5 separate regions of the Homo sapiens genome follow, and all the other regions are linked to region 4. Evidence: fine-mapped expression QTL. A gene starts in region 4. Each other region holds a variant in brackets. All regions are shown on one strand. Distances are between the middles of the regions. Region 1 overlaps MVB12B (multivesicular body subunit 12B). Region 2 overlaps MVB12B (multivesicular body subunit 12B). Region 3 has its middle 100 kb from the start of NRON. Region 4 holds the start of MVB12B (multivesicular body subunit 12B). Region 5 overlaps MVB12B (multivesicular body subunit 12B).

What was found. PIP is the estimated chance that this variant, and not a neighbour inherited with it, causes the effect.
Region 1: its variant is the best candidate, but not a certain one, in a credible set for the expression of MVB12B in whole blood (GTEx, PIP 0.86).
Region 2: its variant is the best candidate, but not a certain one, in a credible set for the expression of MVB12B in whole blood (TOPMed, PIP 0.86).
Region 3: its variant is the best candidate, but not a certain one, in a credible set for the expression of MVB12B in whole blood (INTERVAL, PIP 0.63).
Region 5: its variant is the best candidate, but not a certain one, in a credible set for the expression of MVB12B in CD4 T cells (CEDAR, PIP 0.56).

The regions. Positions count from the first base shown.
Region 1 is chr9:126,427,388-126,432,387 of GRCh38, forward strand. All of the region lies in intron 7 of MVB12B (multivesicular body subunit 12B), which reads left to right. Among named protein-coding and RNA genes, the nearest start is that of NRON, 19 kb to the left of the region's middle. The variant T/C (reference allele first, on the strand shown) is at 3,011.
Region 2 is chr9:126,359,699-126,364,698 of GRCh38, forward strand. All of the region lies in intron 2 of MVB12B (multivesicular body subunit 12B), which reads left to right. Among named protein-coding and RNA genes, the nearest start is that of MVB12B, 35 kb to the left of the region's middle. The variant A/G (reference allele first, on the strand shown) is at 3,021.
Region 3 is chr9:126,509,249-126,514,427 of GRCh38, forward strand. No RefSeq gene overlaps it. Among named protein-coding and RNA genes, the nearest start is that of NRON, 100 kb to the left of the region's middle. RefSeq lists a silencer at 5,118-5,177. The variant A/G (reference allele first, on the strand shown) is at 2,564.
Region 4 is chr9:126,324,164-126,329,364 of GRCh38, forward strand. MVB12B (multivesicular body subunit 12B) reads left to right here and starts at 2,666. Exons shown (of 10, transcript NM_033446.3): 1 at 2,666-2,847. The coding sequence starts at 2,767. RefSeq lists a silencer at 2,651-2,790 and an enhancer at 3,232-3,883.
Region 5 is chr9:126,443,853-126,448,852 of GRCh38, forward strand. All of the region lies in intron 7 of MVB12B (multivesicular body subunit 12B), which reads left to right. Among named protein-coding and RNA genes, the nearest start is that of NRON, 36 kb to the left of the region's middle. The variant C/CA (reference allele first, on the strand shown) is at 2,659.

The sequences.
Region 1 (5,000 bases), 100 kb after region 4:
CTGCTGCTCACAGCTGCCCCAGAGGCTTCCTATAAGGAGAGGGGCCACCAAGGAGAGCACAGTGCGGCTTTTCTAACCTAGGAGGGTTTTTTGTCTTACGGCAGGTTTTGCTTAACAAACGGGACTGTGGGATGGGAAATGATACCATCCTATTCTTTTGTTGTGTTTGTTGTTGTAATCTGATTTCTATCTCCAAGTGCACAGTTTTTAACCATAGAAAGCTTATTTATCTCTTTTGAAAAAAAATTGACATAGTAAAATTAAGCAAATACCTATTAAAACTGGCATATAATAAGACCAAAAAATCTCGAACACCCTATGAATGCAGGGTGAGCCACAGTGCAGAAACTCTGCAAAGCCACACAGTGCAGTGAGCTGCGGGGCTAGGACTGCTTTCCTCTTTAGGACCTAGACAGGTTGGCTCACTGACATCTTCATTTATCCATCAGCATTAGGCTGACTATTAAAGTGAAGGGGGCACACAATTGTCCCAGGACAGAAGCTGTAACCTGAATCTATCCTGGCAGACTGGGGTGTATTGGCCACTCCTCTGCCTTCAGCTTTTTTTCTTTTTTTTTTTTTGCTTTTCTTTTTGATTGCTGGAAAAGCCAGCTTATTGCCCTCCACAGCTGTTTGCTTTTTAAAAACCAGCCCCCCTTTCAGGATGTTTGACACCAGGAAAGATGTCGGTGTGGTCAAGTCAGTGTCCATCATCTCATCAGTTTGGATCATGGCCCCTTGTACAGAGAGAAGGAGGATTTTATCTGTAACTCAGAACCGTGGGTGAGCCATGTAGCTCTGACATTGGAGTAGGAAAGCACAAAGCAATTAAAAATAATTAATGATTTCTGAATATCAGCCTTCTCCATGCAGTTTTAATCTAGTCCTCATTTAAATTGGAAGATGGACATTTAATTATCAGTATTATGAAATTCATGATTTATATATTTCATCCAATTGGATAAAATTTCTGCCACCAGCTTTTCATCTTATGATGAAAAAAATGTGTATCTTACAATGTGATCATTTAAAAACTCATCTACAGCATACCAAACAATTCCAAACATATTTTCCTTTCATTTGCAGTGATTACATGATTTCTGTCTCTTAATTAGGAAAAAAAAAACTCACCCGGGAAATTGAAAATAAACTTAATACTTTAATGATCAGGAAGCACTGCAGGGTTGGGAAAATGAAGGGTAAAAGACTCAAACAATGGGGTGCTTGAGAAGCGCTGTTCTCTCCTGTGTCAGGTGTGCTAACACAACTGCTTGGCATGTTGTAATGTTCATGGTTTGATGCCACAGAATTTGCATCCACATTCTGGGTGTGCCATGTGCCTGTGGTTCTCCTTTTCCCTGTGCTCGGGTGAGTGTGTGGGCTGAGTGAGTGTGTTCCTGATAACCACCAAGGAGGGAAAGAGCCACTGTCTTCTGGTGCAAGCCCCTGAGTAGTGTTAGCCTCTGCTTTCACAGGGGTCCCTGTGGCCCTTGTCTTCAGTGGATATGTTCTCGTGGCTCGGGGTGGCATTGCATTTCTGACCCTGGCTTCCCTGAGGTTCTTCGCTCCACAGAGGATTTTCGTAATCACCGACAACTGGCTCAAGCGGTGGTGGGTGAGCGTATGGGAGGGTTGCCCCAGATCTGAGACAGGAACATCAATTTGGCACAGCCACTGATAATAGCATATGGGAAAATTCCTGAATGAAGTGAAAAGATATGTATAATAATTGTGCTTGAACCAAGGAGGAAAGAAGTCATTTTAAAGACAGATACATTTTTATCATCACCTATAAGAACCATTTTTATCATCCCCTATAAGAACCCTTGTCTATCCATCTCCTCTTGCCCTGACTGACAACAAAATCAAGTATAAAGAAAAATAGAATAAGAAAAAGAAGAAATGAATGGGAGCGGATGGGGAATTGATCGCATGGTGTATTTGTATATCCTGATGTAAAAGGTGCGGCTGACAGGTGGCCAGGTTTGCTCCGTACACAACCATGTGTGTGCTGTCAGGCGCACGCACACTGCCTTGTTTCGATTGATGAATTGCCTGCTTTCTTGATTAAACCTTCCGTCACTTAAGAAACAAAAAGCCTGTGTTTAGATGGCAGAGTGGGACATGTCAAAAAAATCTGTCTCCTTTACCTTTGTGCAGATGTTGGGCACAGACTGTAACATGTATTATTAAAATGAATGTGGCATTTACTGTGCATTATTCCTTTCCTGGGAGAAAGGACTGTAAATTATATGCTAATAATAAGCTTTAACCCTTTCGAAATGCAAAAGATTTAAGAGTGCAAATATTCATGTAGGCCTGGCTAATTGGATGTGCTTTTCTACATCCACCACGGTGGCTGTGTCACTGAAGTTAATGAACAGCGTGTGCAGGCAGACACACAGGGCACTTGGGGAACTCCTGCCTCCTGGAGGTTTTCTGCAGTGCGAGTGCCTCCTCCTGGACTTCACAGAGAGATAGACCCTGAGAACCCTGAGCTGGGCTCTGGGTCATCTTACTCCAGATGAAGTCCATGGTCAGGATCAGTTCCCCAGCAGGTCCTCTGCAGCTGAGTGTTAAGCGTGGGACCTCTCTTCGCACACCTGCATTCTCACTTAGAATGCAGGGCCCACAGAAGGCCGTGGGCCCGGGCCTTCTGGGCTGCAGTCTGGCAGGTATCAGGCTTTGGTGCCCAGCCCTTACTTGACTCTCTTCCTTGACCAGGCTTTTCTAGCCTCAGCCCAGTTGCCCAGGTAGCTGACTCATCTCTCCAAAGACCTCCTTGGTCCCCTTGCTCCTCAGATCACACCTTTGTGCCCCTCCACAGCCTGACTGCATTCATTCAGACCTCAGACCTCACCTGCCTGGTGTTGGGGCTGTCAACAACCAGCCCCACCCGTGTCCCACCAGCCTGGGTCGCTCCCTGCGTCCTCCTTGCCTTTGTCTTGCGCTATGCTTGCCCCGCCACTCCAGCAGCTCAGATTTCACCACCTTCTCTTCTCTCTGTCCC[T/C]GGCTGTGGCTCTGAAGGCCACTCCCAAGCTGCCTCTCCATCAGGCTTTTCTGATTCCTCTCCCGCTGCTGATGCTCTCTCCTGGTTTACCCCACACTACTCTGTTGGAGAGTTTTCACCTGTGAGCACCTTGAGTGAGAGGGCAGAGACCATATTTAGAGAGAATGGAGGCTCCCCTCTTTTTTTTTTTTTAATTGAGGAGGATGTAGGTAAACAAAGGCAAAGACAAGAGCAAGATTGTTCACTCCATTCACTCAACAGTCACCGAGAGCTGCCCTGTCCTGTGCTCCTGAGGGCAAGCCTGCTGCCCTGATAGGGCATTTGGGGTTGGAAGCATAGGGTCAGAATCTTGGCTCTGACACATACTGGCCATCATACAGTGCTGCTGTGAGCAGTTGCCAAGGTTGTGCACTGCACAAAATATGTGACTAGCATCCTCTAGAACTGTACAAGGACCCTGCACAATGCTACTTTGGGCAATGCTAGTATCCATACCTTTAAAACAATGCAGTAATGCCCGTTTCCTTCCTGGATTGTTGTGAAGATCTAGGGTAGGTAAGAACATTTCATAAACCAGGAAGCAGTGTAGGAATGTCACTTCTCTCCTTATTCAGCTCCCCTACAGGGATGTGATCCAAGAAAGAGCCCAAAGACTTGTTGAGAATTATCACATGGGACACGCTGGCTTGGGCCCAGCACGGTCTTCATCTTCTTAGCCGTGTGCTTCCTTATATAATTTTGATATATAAGATTACTTCTCAGAGTGCTCAGAGGAAATTTCTTCCTCAGTCCAGAGAAACTTGCAATAAAAGGCTCTCTGGCATGGCTCAGCTCAGTACCCCCTGGAAGCCGAGACATTCTGTCACGCATCACCACTTAGAAGTGGGCTATTTTCCGTGGCAAGCAGCCCACGATCCCTTTCTCAAGAAGGTGACAGAATGATGGCTTGGGGGCAGGAAGGAGAGAAGTGCTTGGCAGCGTGAGGCTGCAACTTCTATAAAATCTTTCAATGTACCTTTGGTTTTTTGGAGGAAAAGTGCCTGGGGGGCTGATTTCTGCTCTAGGCTTTCATTTCTGCTTTTCCTGTGCCCCATGGGTAGGAAGAAGTTAAGACTTTTTCCAGTTAAGTCATCATGAAAAATAAAAATATTACTAGGTGACAGATACCTCAGTGCTCTTAAACAGGCGGCCACCTTCCCACTGTGCTTTCCTTCTCTTTTTGGTTTTTAAGCATGGCAGAGCTTAGGCGGCACTGGTTTAATGGGCCACATCCCCTTCTTAACTTGGAAAAGGGTTAAATCTGTGGTCCAGGCAGCCGAGGGCAGCTGGATGAAGCAGGGTGGGAGCCCAAACAGCTGGGTGCAGGCCCTGTCTCTCCCACCGACTAGCCGAGTGAGGCCAGCAGAGATCCTAGCCTTTCTGGATCTAAATTCCACATCTCTCCATATCAGCAATTGCAGTAACAATATCGATCATTTGAACATAGCAATAGGTCGGCTCATTCTTATGGGACGCTTCCTGTGCACCAGGCATTGTCTGGTGTTTAAGGTGGAGGTGGTAATGCCCACCTCCCAGGACTTAAAGCTATGTGGGAAGGAGGCTTGTATATTCTGCAGCTTGAGATGCCCCAGGCCTCGCAGTGGCCAGCAAATGTGCATTTACTGCCCCTGGACTTCACAGACATTCTGTCCAAACACTGCCTTGACTGTAACGTTCCTAAACACATGAACACAGAAAAACCAACTTTCTGATACCTTTCTCCCTGTATGTTTATCTTCTTTGTCTAGTTTTTCAGCAGAAATATGCCCATTTCCCCCTGATAATTCCCTTCCTTAGAGACAGCATAATTGTAGACCTGGCCAGAGAAATGCTGAAAACAAAGGGAACCCCCTTGAGCCCAGCCCTTCACCTGCTCTTAGCACTTCTTCAGAGGTTTACTCTGGAGTGAATGAAGTAGTGTGACCAGACACTCCTGCCTAGAGGCAGCTTA
Region 2 (5,000 bases), 35 kb after region 4:
TTATCCTTTTAATGCTTCTAAGATCTGGAGAATGTACTCTCTTTTATTCCCAATAATGGTAATTGGTGTCATCTCTCTTTTTTTCTTGCTCAGGCTGCCATCCTGGATCAAATAGTAGTTCTTTTTTTAGTTCTTTCCATTTTATTTTTGGTTATAGTCTTAGTTTTATCAATTTAATCAATCTTCTCAAAGAACCAGCTTTTGGTTTTATTGACTTTTTCTATTCTTGTTTTTAACTTTATTGTGTTCACTTTTTAAAATTTTTTCTTCTGCTTACTTTGGGTTAAATGTTCTATTGTTTAAGGTGGAAGTTTTGGTCATTGATTTGAGACCTTTCTTCTTTTCTAACATAAGCATTTAATGCTATGAATTTCCCTCCAAACTCTGAATTAGCTGCATCCCTCAAATTTTGTTGTGTTGTATATAATTTTAATTCCATTCACAATGCTATCTAATTTCTCTTCTGACATCTTTTTTGACCCATAAATTATTTAGATGTGTGGTTTTTTGTTTCCATGTATTTGGGGACTTCTAGATATGTTTCTGTTACTAAGAATATATTCCGTGTGGTCAGAGAACATAGTTTTATGGCTTACAATATGAGTCAGCAAACTTTTCTGTAGAGGGCCAGATAATGTATATTTTAAGCTTTGTGAGCTATATGATCTCCATTGTATATTATTATGTTTTCAACTCTTGAAAAAATATAAAACTATCTGTAATTTATAATCTGTACACAAACAGGCTACAGGCTGGATTTGGCCTGCAAGCTGTGATTCATTGACTTCAGCCTAGAGTGTGATCCGTCCTAGTGAATGTTCCACATACACTTGAAAAGAATGTATATTCTTCTTCTGTTGCAGTTGAGTGTCCTACAGATGTCAATTAGGTCAAGTTGGTTGATAGTATTGTTCAAGTTTTCTATATTATTCCTGATTTTCTGTCAATTTGTTCTATCAATTATTAAGAGAAGGGTATTAAAATCTCTGACTATAATTGTGGATGAGTCTATTTTTTCTCAGTGCTATAAGTTTTTGTTTCCTGTATTTTGGTGTTCAGCCATTAGTTGCATAAACATTAAGGAATGATATGTCCTCGTGATTAATTGACCCCTTCATCATTATTAAGTGACCCTCTTTATCCCTGTTAATATTCCTTTCTCTGAAATCTACTTTGTCATATATTAGTATAGCCACTACAGCTTTCTTTTGATTTGTGTTGGCATGAAATATTCTTTTCCATCCTTTTGCTTTGAACCTATCTGTGTCTTTATATTTGAAGTGGGTTTCTTGTAGACACCGTATTATCTAGTCTGACAATTTCTTCCATTTAATTGTGGTGTTTAGCCATTTACATTTAACATGATTATTGATGTGGTTGGGTTTAAATGTACCAATCTTGCTTTTTGTTTAATTAATTTTTTCCCATCTGTTGTTTTTTCCCCTTTTCCTATTTTTCCAACATTTTTTATTAATTATTTTTATCTCATTTTATTTCCTCTGTTGGCTTACCAGTTCTATTTCTTTTTGTTGTTGTTGTTTCTCAGTAGTTGCTTTTGAGTCTATACCATGTATCTTTAGCTTATCACAGTCTACTTTTAAGTAATACACAACTTCATGTGTAGTGTAAGAACAGGATGTTTATTGTTCCTCTTCTAGCCCTTGTGCTATTGTTGGCATACATTTTTTTTCTACGTATGTCATAAACTCCACAATACATTGTTATCATTTTTGCTTTAAAGTTTTATTATCTTATAAAAGACTTAAAAATAATAACATAGTCTTTTATAGTTATCCCTATGGTACTATTTCTAGTGCTCTTCATTGTTTTGTGTAGATCTGCATTTGTGTAGATCTGCATCTGATATAATTTTCCTTCAGCCTGAGGAACTTTTTTGAACATTTCTCATAGTGTTGGTTTGTTGGTGATATATTCTCTCAGCTTTTGTTTGTCTGAACAAAGTCTTTATTTTGTCTTTGTATTTGAAGGATGTTTTCCTTGGGTATAGAAATCTAAGTTGGCATTTTCTTTCAGTACTTTAAAGATGTTGCTACAAATACAAAAAATTAGCTGGGTGTGATGGTGCACACCTGTAATCCCAGCAGCTCAGGAGGTTCAGGTGGGAGAATCACCCGAGCCCGGGAAGTCAAGGCTGCAGTGAGCTGTGATTGCGTTACTGCACTCCAGCCTGAGCAACAGAGTGAAACTCTGGAAAAAAAAAAAAAAAAAAAAAGATGTTGCTCCATTATCTTATGGCTTGCATTGTTTCTTATAAGAAGTCTGCTGTCATTCTTACATTTGTTTCTCTGTACATAGAGGGTTTCAGGCTGTCTTTAAGATTTTCTCTTTATCACTGGTTTTAAGCATTTTGATTATGATATACCTTGGTGTAGTTTTCTTAATGTTTATTCTGCTCAAGGCTCATTGATCTTCTTGAATTTGTGGGTTTACAGTTTTCATCAAATTTGTAATATTTCTGTTTATTATTAAAGTATTTCTTGTTCAGTTCTCCCTTTCTGGGACTCCAGTGACATGTATATTGAACCACTAGATATTGTCCCACAGCTTAAATAGCTAGAAAAACACATGGAAGGAAATAACAAAGATATAATCAGAAATTAAAAGTAAGAGAAAAGGAGGGAGAGATGTTAATTAAGAATTGAGTCTTTGTAAAAAGCATAATAGATAAACTTCTGGCAAATCTAATAGTAAAATAAAATAATATAAAGATAAGGAAAATTTATTTGGGAAAAGGAAAGTAAGAATATAGGAAATTTCAAAATTATAAAAGAAGATGATGTGTAGCTCTTATGTACTGCCATGTGTGACTGAAATTGAAAATCCTGATGAGTTAGATAATTTCTACTGCTATCTAAGAACAAATCCTAAAAAGCCTGTATCCAAGGAAGAAATTGGAAATGTTGTTAGAGAATTATTTACAACAAAAGCACTAGGCCCAAATTGCTTTAAAGTAACATTCTCTCAAATTACCAAGGAACAGTTAATTTTTACATCGTACA[A/G]ACTATCCTAAAGCTTTGAAAAAAGATTGGACGCTTCTTCATTTGTTTTACAGAGCTAATTTACCAAGGTCAGTTTTACAATTGACCTTGCTAATGTAAATGGTACTGTTTCCCCCACCTCATTTTATTTTTTAAAATGGTTATTGGTGTGGTTTACATGTTTTGCATAAAGGAAAATTAATTTTTGGCCAGGCGTGGTGGCTCACACTTGTAATCCCAGCACTTTGGGAAGCCGAGGCGGGGGTATCACCTGAGGTCAGGAGTTCGAGACCAGCCTGGTCAACATGGTGAAACCCCGTCTCTACTAAAAATACAAACATTAGCTGGGTGTAGTGGCGGGCGCCTGTAATCCCAGCTACTCAGGAGGCTGAGGCAGGAGAGTTGCTTTAACCTGGGAGGTGGAGGTTGCAGTGAGCCGAGATTACACCATTGCACTCTAGCCTGGGTGACAGAGTGAGACTCCGTCTCAAAAAAAAAAAGAAAATTAAAGTTTTAAAAATAGATTTCTCTTACATTCAACAACCTCATTGAATTCTTGTTTCTAATTCCCTCCCTTGCTTCCTGGCTGTTCCATGACCCTTTAGATTATGGTTTAGGATGACAAATTTATGAGGTATGTATATGATGGGAAATTATGTGATTACAAACTACCGTGTGTGTAGGGAGTGGCAGGTGATTGGAGAAGAATGTAAGAAGTGATCGACCTGTGGACTAAGCAAATACACGTTGACTCCGTTCTCCACGCTCCTTTCTTAAGGCCTATTGGATTGTCTTCTAATGCATTTCCCTAACTCCATTCTAACCTTCTCCAGTCTTCCCTGAACTGTTGCCAGTGGAAACTTTCCAAAAGATGAGGTTACTCACCTGCTTAGAATTGTCCTCTGGCTCTCTGTTTTTAGACTTACAGGCAAATTCGTTGTTTTACTTACCACCAAGCGCTGAGCACCTAGCACTCAGTAAGTGTTTATGTAATGAATGGACTTCACTGGCATCTGAGAGTTGTTTAGATTTGCTCCTTCCCTAATTTTCATGTTCTCATTCTGCCCCCACTCACAGTTCCTCAGAGGTGCTGTGCCCATCCTTGCCTCTGTGCTTTTGTGCATGCCCACCATTCCTCTCCCTGTGGAATTATGTTCTGGTTCTGTGTGTTTCAATGGCACCCTTTTCCTCCATTGCAGTGCTTACCACTCTTTAATTACAGTTTAATTACAGTTACCACTCTTTAATTACTTCTCTGTGTACTGAGCCCCATGAGGAGGAGGCCACAGAGCTATGCCTTTCGCATAGCTGTACCCCCAGTACCCAGCACAGGGCCTGGTGCACACATTCTCCACCAGCACACACAGGATGTTTATTGAATTGAATTAGCTGGCTCCTTTCTGTTTGGCCTTCTTGTGTCTGGGATATTGGATGCCAACATCCAGCTAAGTTATGTTTGTGTTAAACATGAATTGAAATGCAATTACAGCTGGCAATGTGCTTTGAGAGCTGAGTAATAGAGTACATAAGAAGAGTGACTTAGGCACGAGGACCAGTTTATCTCCTTTCCTTTCTTGCCTCCTGTCATCGGGCATGACTCATGAACGGCGCGAGTTCAACTTGTCTTCTCTTAAATCCCATCACTTCAACTCTTCCTGCCCTCCTTGTCTTGATGGGTCTCTTTCAGGGCCCCTTTGTTAAAACCAGCAAGAAGCCCAGAGCCAGGCCTTGCAGTCTGAGTTGGTTGGAGCCAGAGGAGGCTGCACTCCCCACTCCAGGGCAGAGGTGGGGCCAGCACCATGGGTAGGAGTGTGCACGGGGCTGCTGAAATGCTGGCTGGATCACTAGTTTTCACTACTAATCACATCCTGCTAGTGCCCTAGCTAAGGCAAACATGGTGTCTTTTATCAAAGATGTTGCCACTTTACCTTAGACCCATTGCTTTCATAGCCTTCTCGAATTGCATTCAGGAATTGTGTCTTAGGTTTGGACCCACCTTGA
Region 3 (5,179 bases), 190 kb after region 4:
TGTCGCTGCATTGCAGCCACCTGTACCTCTCATTAGATTATGTGCTCCTGGAAGAAGGGGTCCATGTCTCTTTTTTTTTTTTTTTTTTTTTTTTTTTTTTTGAGGTAGAGTCTCACTCTGTCGCCTAGGCTAGAGTGCAGTGGCGCAATCTCGGCTCACTGCAACATCCGCCTCCCGGGTTCAAGCGATTCTTCTTCTGCCTCAGCCTCCCAAGTAGCTGGGACTACAGACACCCACCACCACACCTGGCTAATTTTTGTATTTTTAGTAGAGATGGGGTTTCACCATATTGGCCAGGCTGACCTCAAACTCCTGACCTGGTGATCCACCTGCCTCAGCCTCCCAAAGTGCTGGGATTACAGGCGTGAGCCACCACGTCCAGCCCCATGTCTCATTTATTATGCCCTCCCCCACCATTGTATACCCAGAGTGCCCAGCACAGGCCTGGAAAAATGGTGGACATCAGCAAATGCTCTCTGAATGAATTCCTTACACTGGATGAAGTAGACAGATGAACTAGACTCAATTGCTGAGGAGCCCCAGAAGGACAGACACCAGCAATACAGGGCCTGTGATGCCCAGCGGCAGGCCTCCCTGGACACACCCCGATGCTGGCCCCAGAGAGATCAGACAAGGATATGAAAGCTGAGCCTTGTCTGGTTCATCTCCGAAGCTGCAGGACCCAACACGGGGCCTGGCTGCAAGCTGGCATCAGTCCATGGTGATGATGGTGGGACAGGAAGGTGAACTGCCACCGGCTGCTGTGTCTCTTTCTAGAACCCAGCTCTGGGGGATGTCAGAGAAAGGGAGGAGGTAGATGGGTCACAAGACCCAACACTAAAATGGCCAGGGGCTTGGATCTCAGGGACTGGAGAACTTCAGAGATAAGTTGATTCCAAATAGATATGGATAATGCACATAAAAAAAAATTAGGAGCATGGCTTGCTTCATGAACATGGGCATCAGAAGCCTCAATAAAGTCTTTTTTTTTTTTTTTTTTTGAGATGGAGTTTATCTCTTGTTGCCTAGGCTGGAGTGCATTGGCGTGATCTCGGCTCACTGCATGCAACCTCCGCCTCCTGGGTTTAAGCAATTCTGCAGCCTCAGCCTCCTGAGTAGCTAGGATTTCAGGTGCCTGCCACCTCATCTAGCTAATTTTGTATTTTTAGTAGAGATTTACCATGTTGGCCAGGCTGTTCTCGAACTCCTGACCTCACGTGATCCACCCGCCTTGGCCTCCCAAAGTGCTGGGATTACAAGCATGAGCCACTGTGCCTGGCCAAGAAGCCTCAATAAAGTCTTGAGCAGAGTGAAAGGTGGTTGGGTGCCTAGACGACAGATGGCAGAGGTCAGTTTTCTGGCTATGCCCATTCATCCCTTCCACGTTGCCCTAGGTGGGTCATTTTCATCCATTTGCAGGTTGGGGAGGGGTGTCAGCAGAGGGCAGCACAGGCGGGCAGCTGCCTGGCCCTGAGCCCCCTCCTCCCCTCGCCCCACACCTTGGGTCATGTTGCTGCAGAGACACAGGTCTTGGGAATGGTGGTGCGGGGGCAGAGGTCTGGGAAGGCCCTGAGGGCTGGACTCCTGATGGGGAGGGCACATGGGCAGAGGTTGGCACAGTTTGGAACACCCAAGACACATCCATCCCCAGCTCCTCATCCTTCTCTGGAGCGGGCACAGGGTTCTCAACTTCAGCTGCACATTAGAACCTTCTGAGAGTGGGTTAGAATTCCTGTGCCCAGACCCACACCCAGACCAATCAAACAAGAATCTCTCTCTGCAGGAGGGACCAAGGAGTCAGTAGTGTTCAAGCTTCCCAGGTGATTTCAATGTGCAGCTGAGAGTAAGAACTCAATTCTGGCCGGACTCGGTGGCTCACGCCTGTGATCCCAGCACTTTGGGAAGCTGAGGCGGGTGGATCACGAGGTCAGGAGTTCAAGACCAGCCTGGCCAAGATGGTGAAACCCCATCTCTACTAAAAATACAAAAATTAGCCGGGCACAGTGGCAGGTGCCTGTAATCCCAGCTACTCGGGAGGCTGAGGCAGGAGAATTGCTTGAACCCAGGAAGCAGAGGTTGCAGTGAGCCGAGATTGCACCACTGTACTCTAGCCTGGGCAACAGAGCAAGACTCCATCTCAAAAAAAAAAAAAAAAAAAAAAAAAACAACAACAACTCAATTCTGAGCTTTCACCACTTCCCCAGTTACATGTTACCAGCCAGTGGAGCTGAGTCCCAGGGAACTATGAATTCCCAGGGGCAGGTGGAAGAACAGACATCAGAAGAGCTCATCCACCCAGGGAAGACAAAAAGCTGAGCAACCCACACCAGCAGAAGCAGAAGTCATAGACCAGCCAGAGCATGAGTTAAATATAAACAAAAGGCATCCTCCAAGAGATGTGGGAGGACCCTGGGAACATTGGGCAGGGAGAAGTTGTTTGGAATAAGAGCCTGTCAGTTTTGAAATACTGACAGACCTAGAGAGACAAAAACAGATAAGCCAGTAATTGCACTTGAAGATTTTAACACACCTCTCTCAGAAACTGTAGTCAAATTGCCAAAAT[A/G]TGAGCAAAGATATAAAATGTTTGAATAACCTGATTAACAAGCAGAGAACTTTCAACCTGGCATAGATCCCATATCCTTTCAGAATCAACTAAGAACTAAGCCACTAAACAAACCTCAATAATTTCCAAAGAGCCAACGTCATATCTAAAACCATCTCTGATCATACAATGAAAAAATAAGAAATGTAAAGCAAAATGATAGCTTTTTAAAACCACACATGATTGGAAAATGCACTACAATTAAATAAGAGGAAGCCATAAGGGAAATTATTAACATCTTAGAGGAAAATAATAATGAAATCACTACATATCAAAATTTGTGGGAGGCCAAGCATGGTGGTTCACATGTACTGTAATCCCAGTACTCCAGGAGGCCAAGGCAGGAGGATCAGTTGAGGCCAGGAGTTTGAGACCAGCCTGGGCAACATAGTGAGATCCTGTCTCTACAAAAAAATTCAAAAAAAAAAAAAATAGCCAGGCATGGTGGTGTGCTCCTGTAGTACCAGCTACTTGGAAGGCTGAGGCAGGAGGACTGCTTAAGCCCAGGAGTTTTAGGTTACAGTGAGCTATGATTGCACCACTGCACTCCACTCTCCTGGATGACAGAAACCCCATCTCTAAAAAATAAAAATAAAAAAATTGTGGGACACGATTGAAACGGTAGACAATGAAATTTACAGTTTAAATTTATCCAAAAGCAAGAAAGATTGAACATAAACAAGCTACGCTTTTAACTGAAGAAGATAGGAAAAGAGCAACAAGTAAGTGCAAAGAAATAGGAAATAATGATAAAAAGAATCGATGAAATCAAGCAAACAGAAATTATGAACAAAGTCAAAATTTGGTTCTTTGAAAAGACTAAAAGAGACAAACTTCAGACAAGGAGAAAGAAGAGGCAAATAAGAATTAAAACAAAAGATAACTGCAGATATAACAGTTAACAGGAATATTATTAGTAACCATGTATTAATTACCATATATCTGGAAAAATATAAAATGTCAAAATTGGTATAAGAAAACTAAATACCCTGGCACAGTGGCTCACACCTGTAATCCCGACACTTTGGGAGGCTGAGGTGGGTGGATCACCTGAGGTTGGGAGTTCGAGACCAGCTTGACCAACATGGAGAAACCCCGTCTCTACTAAAAATACAAAATTAGCTGGGCGTGGTGGCCATGCCTGTAATCCCCGCTACTCGGGAGGCTAAGGCAGGAGAATCGCTTGAACCTGGGAGGCAGAGGTTGTGGTAAGCCAAGATCGCGACATTGCACTCCAGCCTGGGCAACAAGAGCGAAACTCCGTCTCAAAAAAAAAAAAAAAAAAAAAAAAAAACATAGTCCAATTTTCAACCTTTTCCTCTATGATCGTTCTTTCTGTGTCTCGTTTAAAAATCTTTGCCTATCCTCCCAAACCCTTTAAAAAAAATGTTTGGCTTTTTTTCCTGCCAGTACCTTCCCTGGAAGATGAGTGAGGAAGGGTTTCTGGAGGAGGCAAGGTATGCCCTGAGCTCTAGAGGGGGCTGGACTAGGATGTGTTTCCCAGGGAAGGTAAGCAAATGTCAAGGGGGGAGGTATTTCATTGTTCACTGGGCATCAGCAAACGTTTACAGAGGACAGCAGGGGTAGCCTTCTGTGTGTCATCACCACAGTCCTGAAGTTAGGGATGGCCCATTTAGCAGATAAGGAAACTGAGGCTCCAGAGAGTGCTCAGAAGCACACAGTCAGACAGGGGCACCTCAGGGCCTCCAGCCCAGGCATGTCCAACTCCAGTGCCGCTCCTGGCGCGGCCTGGATTATGCACACCTGGAAGGAGGTGTCCTGTCCTGTGGGGTTAAGGTGAGGATGGCTCATGAGGTGAGACAGGCCCAGTTCAGGGCCCAGCTTAGTCACCTCCCTTGATGTGCCCCTGGGGCTCTGGGATAACAGCAGCCAGCAGCAACCAGGGCTTTCTGGAGGAGGAATTGAGCAAACCCATTACATACTTGGCCTGGGGCAAGGCACACGGCAGGGGTGGGGGATGCAGCAGAGGGCGTTTGGCCACGGGGAAGCCCCACCAGGCCCCTCCACGGGCAGGAAGGGAGACTGAGGGTCTGAGGTCGTGTGAGCTTCCTCCCCCTACCTGTCCCCTGGCCTTGTGCAGAGACTCAGGAGCACGCTAGCAATCTGCTTCCAGGCTAAGCACCAGCCCCAGTTAGCTCAAGAGAGCTTCCCGCTGAGGAAGAGGGATGATGTCGGGCCAGGTCTCCAGCACCCCACCTCACTGACTGGGGGGCGCTCCCTAGGGTGGGTCCTGGCAGGGGCCAAGACCACCTCACCTCCCGCAGGCCCAGGAAGAGGCACTTCGCAGCGAGGCAAAGCCCCTTGGAGTTCCATTGCCCAGCGAGAGGGCCCCAGGAGGTCTCTGGCCTGCTTTCTCCCCTGGAACCCAAGGGTTCTGGCACCTCCCTTTCTAGGTTGCCCAGCAGGGTGGACCTCCAGAGCCGCCTGCACGAGGCCCCTCCCACCGTGCCGCCCGCCCGGGACCCCGCCCTGCGCTCCGCCCCCAAACACGGGTTCTCACGCGGTCCGGCCGCGCGGGGGCGCCCGGCTCCCCGGCCCTCGCTGGGCCCTGCGGGA
Region 4 (5,201 bases):
CTGGAAAAAGTAGCTTTTGCTCTGTAGCTAAGTGGGCTTGCTATATTTCTCCCTGAATTGAGTAGATTTATTTGTGTAGTGGCGGGTGGTGCAGGAGAATAGTATCACTCTGTCCCTGAAACAGGTTCACTTAACCCACAGTGAGAGCGCATGGAAATATTTGCTCTCTGCAGTCAGCCAAATCCAAAAAGAGAACTCAGAAGCATCTATTCTTGTCCACTTTTTCCAAACTCACTCATCTTCCCTTAGAGTGGAGAGAGGCCAGAAGTCTTATTCTAATGGAAGTCCCTCTATATGGAAAAGAAGGCTTCTCCCTTCAATACCATAAGACAGGGTAAGGAAGAAAAAAAAGAATAATAATAATAATAATAATAATAATAATAAGAAGAAGAAGAAGAAGAAGAAGAAGGAAGGAGAAGGCTTCTCCCTTAACATTTAGGAAAACCATTGATTTTGGTGTTTATCTTATAACTGACCACCTTACCAAAGTCTCTATGATTTTTAGTTGATTTTTTTTATTTTTACTTTTTGGGAAACACTTAAATCATAAGCAAATAATGACAATTTTATCTCTTCCCTTCTAATATTTATATTTCTTATTTATTTTTCTTATCTTATTGCATTGGCTTTATTCTATAGCCATTATAGCAGGCATCCTTTTGACTGACTTACATGAGAATACCTTTAGTGTTTCACCATTAAATATGTTTGTTGATGGCTTCTGATAAACTTTGTCATGTTAAAAGTTTAAACTTTCTTCCTATAATAGTTTACTAAGAGTTTTTAGAAATTTATGGGTCATTAGTTTTGAAGTTTATAAAATACTTTTAAAGCATCTATCCCATTGATAATATCCTGTAATTTGTTTTCCTTTAACAATGCAATGCATTTACAAATTCCCTAATGTTGGATTTTTCTTGCGCCTCTGGAATAAATCTTGCTTGATCATGGTGGGTTTTCAGTTGCTTTAATAGTAAACTGGATTCAAATGGCTAAAATTGTATTTAATAGTTTTACGACTATTATATACTTAAATATATAGTGCAGATTCACATATTGAGGATTTATCAGTGAGCTTTAGAAGGTGGTCCTGGCTCAGATGAGTTTGGGAAATGCCAGGTTAAACAAACCAAACAGGTTTCTTTACTCCTGGACTTCACAGAGGCCTTCCTTAATATACGAATACTTATCGTGATTCTCCAAAAGGTACACTATAAACGGCATGCAGCACTTTCTCAAGTTGCCCACAGAAGCCCATTTTCAAAAAATAAATATTAAATTCTCTGGGGACTCGTGTTCTAGGTTAGTCATCTGCAGTTCTTTTTGGTATTGTCTGTTGGATTTTGGTATCAGGGTTATGCTAAACTTGGGAAATGAAATAAAAATTTTTGTTTCTTTTGTTTATTTTTTCCTGTGTAACAGTTTAAGTAACATAGGGATGATCTGTGCCCTGATGGGAGGATAAGGCTTGCTGTAAAGCCATCTGAACCCATGGCATTTCTGAGTAGTGAAGACACTGGGAATGCACACGTGCATGGCTTCCCTACAGGATGTTTCCCCCGACAGCCCATTCTGCTTGGCACCCTTCTCTTTAGGATCAAACAGCTATTATGGAAAAGCCTAGAATGTGTGAAAATGAGACTCAATGCATTAGCAAATCAATGCTGATCACTCCTGCATGGTCCTCAAGTCCTAACGAATGCTCCAGCCTCCTGGCAGGAAACCTTTCAAATCTTGCACACGCTGGCCTCTGCCTGGGGTGCCTGGCTGGGCGGTGTGGGGGGCATGGTTGGTTAAGGCGCAGAGTCCGCCTTTCCTACCAGCCACTCTAGCTGAGGGTCAAGCTCTGGACCCTCCCCCAACCATCCAGCTCCATTTTATCCTTGGCTTATGCCTTCCCCAAGTACTGCAGGGTAGGACTCCTGCTAAAAACTTCTTCTAGATGCTTGCCTGAGGCTGGCCCCATAAACCTGATTCTAGGCTTCTGGGGATAAATCATCTAACTAATATAAGAGAATTGCTAGGCAATTGGGGTTAGTTTGAGACGACTGGCTGAGCTCACCTTAGGTGAGCTGGGGGGTGGGGGAAGATGAGCTGAAGGATTCTAGGGTTCAGTGAAGCCTAGAATGGCTGGGTGGGCGGAGAGTCCTTAGAAGGGTCCAACTTCTAGCCTGAGGGCCTGGGGGCTTCCAGGGATCTGCAGCCGAGCGGAAGACCGGTCTTGCGTACAGCGAGGCCTACGAGAGCTAAGTGGGCTGAGGGTCCCTGGAAAAGACCAGCCTGGGGGCGGGGACCATCGATGCCCCAGGCTCTAGAGGCCGTGGGCTCCCGGGGGCCTGAGGCTGGACTGGGGTCGCCGGCGGGCTCGGGGAGGCCCGGGTGGGCGCACCGGGGCCCTGCCTGCGGCTGACGGGCTGGGTCGAGGGGGAGGCTGGGGAGGCGGGGTGCCGGCCGGGGCGGCGGCGCGGGCTCGGGACGCCAGGGCTCCCTCTCCCTCCTCCCGCCCGAGCCAGCCTCGGGCGCCGGGCGCCTCCCCCGATCCTGAACCAGCGCCAGCGCCGGGAGGCCCGGAGCCCGGCCCGCCGCCGCGGCCCGCGGAGGGAGCCGCCGCCGCCACTGCCGTTGTCGCCGCCGCCGCCAGGCCGCGCCCCGCCCCTCCGCCGCCGCCGCCGCCGCCGCCGCTCTCGGTGAGGCTCGCGCTCGAGCTGCGGCGCCGGCTCCTGCCGCCTGGGCCCCGGGCCCGGCCCCTCCCGCGCCGCCCGGGCGATGAGAAGCTGCTTCTGCGTGAGACGGAGCCGGGACCCGCCGCCGCCGCAGCCACCGCCGCCGCCGCCCCAGCGGGGAACAGTTAAGTGAGGCCCGGGCGCCGCGGAGGCTCGGCGGAGCCGGCCCTGCAGCCGGGAGGGCGGGCGGGCGGGCGCGGGCCCCCGGCCGAGGGGCGGGCGGACGGGAGGAGCCGGGCCGCGCCGAGGCCTGCGGGCTCCGTGCCCGGCCCGCGGCGGGGACAGGCCCGGGCGGCCTTTGCAGAGCCCCGAGCGCGCCGCGGCTGCCGGTGCCCGGGCTCGGCCTGGCGGCGAGAGGCGGGAGAAGCTGGGGGACCCGAGTGCCAGCAGCGCCCCCAAGGCCCGGGCAGGTGAGGGGCGCCGAGAGCCACCTCTGCCCGCGTGAGAGGGAGGCGGCCCACCTGGGCACAGACTGGGAACAGTCAATCGTTTGACCGGCCTGGCCTGGGGTCCTGCTCTCTCTGGTCACGTGGGTGCAGACCAACGTGCACCTGCCCCAGGAGCATCACTGCCTCTGTGACCTGGGCACAGCAGAGAGGACACCTAAACCCTCAGGCACCTGTCTGGAAGGTGACATGCCCAGCCTGGGTACCCGAGACCCAGAGCACCCATCCAGGAACATGGTGGGCACGTCGAGCACCCTACAGTGACTCCAACACCAGCGAGACGGGAGGAGCAGGGGCTGGGACAAGAGCTGAGGCATGGCACCAGGGGACATCACATCCTCAGAGGCAGGCACCAGGGAACGGGGTAGACCCAAGAGCATCTTTTGTCCTCTTTGTTACCAACACACAACTGTTCTAAATCAGCAGCCCTTCTCACCATGAAAGATGAGACTCTTCTGTTCCCTGCCCCTCAACACCTCTTGCACAAGGCACTGAGGAAGACCACAGGAGGGCAAAAGGCAAATGGTGGTTGCCCCTTCCCTGCTTCCTGCCCCCACCCAAGAACCAGAGCCCACTCCGATTGCTGCCACAAAAGCAGACAGCAGACCAGCTCCTCTTAGGGGCCTTTGTCTCTCGTGGTTCCTTCTCAGTATAATCTCATTGTACATTTCTCGACAGCTGGCTGGATCTCATCTCGTTTTAACAGGGCTGGGAAATCTTATCAGCGGCACCAGGAAAGCTTAGAGAGTTAAAAAATAAGCTCTGTGAAGCCTTGACTAACTGAAAAACTCAATGTGCTAGGATGTTTAGTTACAGTAGATGGTGACACCTTTCTTGCTTGTTAGAAATCATGTGGGGTCCTTGGAGATACTGTACCATGCTCAGAATCTTTAAATAGGGCCTCAGAGAGATGAGGCTTCTGCTTGGGACCCGGGCTCCAAGCCCCATGGGAAGCAGTTGACGTGGCGATTACTGGTTCATTTAAACCTAAACTTACCTTCTGTAATCCATATTTTTCATTCCTTCCTTCTAGGCTTTAGGTCACACTCCTAATTTAGGTTCAAGGCATTTTTCTTGCCCTGTCTCCATCCTGCTAGGGACCTTTTACCACTTCCAACTGGAATGTTGTGCCATGGTTATGTGCAGGGAGTTTAGAATTAGCCCTCAGCTTAAGTCTTGGCTTTCCTACTTACTTTGTGCCCTTGGACAAATTATTGAACTTTTCTGAGTTTCAGTTTCCTCATCTGTAGAGTGAAACTAATGATAGTATTCATCTCATGGGATTATGGCGTGATGTAAATGAAATTTTGCAAGAAAAGTCTAGCTCAGTGCCTGCTACATGGCAAGAAGTCAGTAAACGGTAGGGGTCATTATGAGAGGTTTGTTAACGGATGAATGAGAGGAGTAGCTTATTTATTTATTTTTAGAGTTTCTTTCTGTCTGCTTTTTTTTTGGTTTTTGTTTGTTTTTGAGACAGGGTCTCACTGTCACTCAGGCTGGAGTGCAGTGGTACCATCATGGCTCACTGCAGCCTTGAACTCCTGGACTCAAGCGATTCTCCCACCTCAGCCTCCCAAGTATAGGTGCCTGCCACCACGCTCGGCTGTTTTTTTAAATTATTATTATTTTTAGTAGAGTTGGGGTCTTGCTATGTTGCCCAAGCTGGTCTTGAACACCAGAGCTTAAGTAATCCTCCCACCTTGGCCTCCCAAATTCCTGGGATTACAGGCATGAGCCACCACGCCTGGCCTATTATTTAGTCTTCAACGGGACAACCAGGAAGTGATGGTATAGTAGAAAGAACACTGGACTTGGATTTAGGAGCTTGAGTTTGACTCTCAGGCTACCTCCTGGACCCCAGGTGACCCTAGGGGAGTCACAGAACCTTTCTGAATCCCCATTTCTGTAATGTAAAAGTGTCTTAAGAACAAAGCCTACCCCATAAAGCTAATCAGTCAAGAAGAGCTGAAGGAGCTAATGTATGTGACTGCACTTGGCACTGCAGGAGGTGGCGGTCCTCATGAAATTTAAG
Region 5 (5,000 bases), 120 kb after region 4:
TCACTTGCCTCCATTTCCGGCCCTTCCCTCCCCATCGCCAGTCCCTGGCAGTCACTTGCCTGCCCAGTGCTATCATATACATGGACTCATACAATATGTAGCTTTGTGTGTCTCTCAGCATAATATTTTTGAGAGTCTTCCATGTTATTGCATGTATCAGGAATTTGTTCCTTTCCAACACTCCAGGTGTCTATTCTGCTTTGAGACCTGTTCATGTACCTCGTTCCTTGTCATTAGGTCAGGTGGTCGTCAGGCTGGGATTAATGGTTGTATCATCCTCCCTCTTATGGATACAATGTACTTTACCTAGCCAGTCCTCAGTGGCTGAGTTTTTACATTATCTTCATTTCTAAAAGTTATACTTCGGTGAATGTTCCTTTAAATAAATATATAAACACATTTTTAATTATTTTGACATATAATGACAAATTGTCCCCCGTAATGGTTGAATTTGTTTACACTTCTGCATGTATGAAAGAGGTTTGTTTGGTTTGGTTTTCCACACAAGACTTGCTAACTGGTAATTTTTTTTTTTTAATTTTTATCAATTGGAAGGTGAAGGGGTATTTTATTGTTAATTTACATTTCTTTGATTACTGCTAAGGTTGCCTGTGTTGAGCCACTTGTGTTACTCGAGACCTTTGCCTGTCTGTCCGCAGCATCTCTTCCATTGCAGTCTTAATTTTGTTTGTGGAGTTGCAGGAGCTCCTCTTGCAACAAGGCCTTCTTTTGCTCTCACATTACTACCGCTTGTTTCCAGTTTCTGCTTTGTACTTTCATTTCATGTTTCCTTTATGTTTTGTGTCTTTGCCATCACGTTTTAGAAAAGCCTTCTCGGTTTTCTGGTATATTCTAGTACCTTCATTTTTTTTAACATTTAAATCTAAAGTTCTGCTGTGATTTGTTTTGATGTGTGACAAGATAAGAATCTATGTTTTTCCAAATTATTTATTATTGTCCCAGCATCACTTGTTAAATAATCTTCTTTTAACCAACTCATTTGGAAAACAATCCTATAATAACCTCTTACTGTGATGTATTTTGTGGCCTGTGTTGTGTTCCATTGAGTTGAATGCATATTCCAATGGGAGGGTCACGCTTTTAATAATTATAAATGTATGTATTTTAATTTCTTATCTTACTATTCTTTGTAGTTATTTTTCAGAATGTTCCAGGTAATAATAACTTTTTTACCCAGTAGAAATTTAGAATCACTTTAAGTTCCAAGGAAAATACTTTGAGGATTTTGATTGAAAAAAACATTGAAGTTATAAGTCAATTTGGGGAGAGTGGTCATTTAGAAAAATATCCAATCTTTCCTTCCAGAGATATAACTCTCTATTCAAATGTCTTTGTATATTATTCAGTAACATATTATAGTTTTCTTTGCTTTCTGTTTATATAATTCCTAAGTTTTAAATTTTGTTGCATTACCCATTATGTTGGTTTTGGTTTTTGTTTTGTTTCTTTTTGAGACAGGGACTCACTCTGTCACCCAGGCTGGAGTACAGTGGTGCGATCTCGGCTCACTGCAACCTCCGCCTCCCGGGTTCAAGCAATTCTGCCTCAGCCTCCAAAGTAGCTGGAACTACAGGCACCCACCGCCACACCTGGCTAATTTTTGTATTTTTAGTAGAGACAGGGTTTCACCATGTTGGCCAGGCTGGTCTTGAACTCCTAGCCTCAAGTGATCCTCCCCCTCGGCCTCCCAACGTGCTGGGATTACAGGCGTGAGCCACCGCACCCAGCCTGCATTGCCCATTATGTTTTCATTGGTGATTAAATATTTAATTTAATATTGTTGGGTCTTTTTTTTTCTTTTTTAGAGATGGGGGTTCTCACTGTGTTGGCCAGGGTGGTCTCAAACTCCTGGCCTCAAACAGTCCTCCCACCTCAGCCTCTCAAAGTGCTGGGATTACAGGCTTCTGCCACTCCACCTGGCCCTGTTGTTTTTTTTAATCTTCATTTGGTAACTGGCCACCTCTCTGTATGCTTGTTATTTCCAATAGCCTCCAGTTTATTTACTGGGATTTTCTTGGAAGACAACATCATCTGCAAATACAGATCATTTTGTCTCTTTGATAACATTTATACACCATTGGTTTTTCTTGCTTTGTATTTTTGGCTAAAACATTGAAAGCAGTGGCAGTAGTTTTCATTCTTACCTGGTTCCTGACTTTAATGGGAATGCTTCTAGTGTCCCATGGTTAAGTCTGATATAGATTTGGGGGAATTTGGAGGAGAGAGGGCTTGATTGTATTAAAGGACCCATTCTCTATTCCTATTTTCCAAAGATTTTTTTTTTAATAAATTCAGGCACTAATTTGAGTTTCATATAAAAAAATTTGGAATATTTTAATGTAGTATAATATTTTTTCTCACTTATTGACAGATACAGATTATTTTGTTTTGATGATTTAGCATTTAGAAAGTTATTGTTATATTTCTGAAATCAATCTTTATTATGGTGCATTCTTCTTTAAATATAGTACTAGATTTGAGCCACTGCTATTTAAGTTAGGATTTGGGCATTTATATAAGTAAGATTAGGCTTTTTGCTTATCAAAATGTAATTTTTGTGTGATCTAAGTTTTTTTCAAATATAAAAATATTTCTAAAATATTTAAATGGCTGTTCATTTTGGGGAAAAAAGAACAC[C/CA]AAAAAAAAAAAAAAAAAATCCTGTCTGAACTATGTGGACCTGGAAGCTAGGGGCATTTTGAGGAGATGGACAACTATTTCAGTTTCTTTCAGCATTAGTGATTTTTTTCAGGCTTTCTACTTTTTCTTGAGCCAGTTTTATCATGTGTATTTTTTTAAAGAAAATATAGCAATTTCACCTAAATTTCATCTAAATTTTAAAGTTTATTGGTACAAAATTTTACTTAAGAGTTTGTATTTATCTTAAAATTAATATACCTATAGTCATATATATCCTGATGTTATTTTTCTCTCTCTTTTTCTTGGTTGATTTATTTGCTTTATTTGTCTTTCCAAATAACTGCTTTTTAAATTTATAAAGCCATTAGACTTTTGCTTTATACTATTTAATAAATTTTTATCTGTATTAGTTCTTTTTTTTAACTTTCTTTTTTTTTTTTTTTTTTTCCTTTGAGACAATGTCTCACTCTGTTGTCCAGGCTGGAGTGCAATGGTGCCATCTTGGCTCACTGCAACCGCCGCCTCCCAGGTTCAAGTGATTCTCCTGCCTCAACCTCCTGAGTAGCTAGGACTACAGGTGCGCACCACTATGCCTGGCTAATTTTTGTATTTTTAGTAGAGATGGGGTTTCACCATGTTGGCCAGGCTGGTCTCCAACTCCTGACCTCAGGTGACCCACCTGCCTCGGCCTCCCAAAGGGCTAGGATTACAGGCATGAACCACACTGCCCCCAGCCACCTTTTTTTTTTTTTTTAACTTTCTATTTATTTTAGCTTTTTTAATAGCTTCCCTTGAGTGGTTCCCTCATTTGTTTTCTGTCCTTTTTTGATTTTTAATAAAAGTGTTTAGGGTTATATAAATATTCTTGTATATTGCTTTGGTGGCATTCTGTAGCTTTCATATATAATATTTATTTATAAATACATAATTTCAGTTTTGATTATCCCTTTGACTCAAGTGTTAGAAAAGACATTTCTAAGTAATTTTTGAAACCTTAATTTCTACTTTTATTATGTAATTATCCGAGAATATGACCTCTATAATTTTTTGTTTTTTCAAGTGTATTTAGTCTTTGCAGTCTAATAGATATATCAGTTTTACTAAATGCTCCGTTGATACTTGAAAACACATCTTCTCTCTGTCACAGTGTTTGAGATACACTCCCACCATCAACGTTTTTTGATCAAGTAGGATGGATGGGTATGTATACCCCCATATAGATATATACATTCATTCATTCAATTTGACCAAACAATGGTAGCTTTTGTTTTGCACAGTTCTTCTCATGTCAGTATCATTTTGATCATTGGTTTTATTTTGTATGTTCCTATGCAGTGTTATTGAGGCCATGAAGGTTTATGACGGTTAAAGGTCTATTATGTATTTTACTCTTCATCGAAATAGAATTCCCCTTTTGTCGCATCTCGCATTTTTGGCCATAAGTTCCATGGTGCTCCTGTCCCTTGTGGCCCTGGCTCTGAGTGCTGCCCCTCCTCCTCCCTCTGCTCTGGCCAGGTGAGGCTTCTCCTCCAGGGGTTTTCCACCTTTGCTGTGGTTGTCTCTTCCACCAAAGAGAGCCCTCCTGTTCCCCACCACATCCCTGCCAGCCTCTGACCTGTCTGTGTCTCCAGCTCTTCCCAGAAGCCCTCCCTGGCAGCTCCTGTCCTCCTCTGCTGGATCCTGTGAGCACCACAGCCTCCTGTACACCCTGAGCTATGCCTCTCAAGGCCCTCCACCAGCTCATCCCCTGCTGTGGGCACAAGCCCTGCTTTCAGAGTTTCCCTGCCCAGGGAATGAATGCCCCTTGAGAGACCACACATATGCTGCAAGTCCAGCCCTGCTCAGAGCCGTTCTTTGCCAAATAATCACCTTGTTATTAAAGAGCTGATTGTTCTACTAGACTCTTCTATTCTTATGGTTCACCATGAAAGACCAGTTAATTCACTTTTTAAAAATTACTTCAAGAGCCTTGTGTTTGGCCGTTTTGTGTTTCTATAAAGAAATACCTGAGACTGGGTAATTCATAAAGAAAAGAGGTTTAATTGACTCACGGTTCTGCAGACTATATAGGAAGCTCCAGAATCTGCTCCTGGTGAGGGCCTCAGGAAGCTTCCAATCATGGTGGAAGGCAAAGGGGAAGCCGATGTATCACATGGCAAGAGCGGGAGCAAGAGAAAGAGAAGGGGGAGGTCCCAGGCCCTTTCAAACAACCAGATCTCGGTGAATTAATGGGGCAAGAACTCACTTATTACCAAGGGGATGGTGCTGAACCATTCATGAGGGATCTGCCCCCTGATCCAGTCACCTCCCACCAGGCTCCCCGCCTCCAACATTGGGAATCA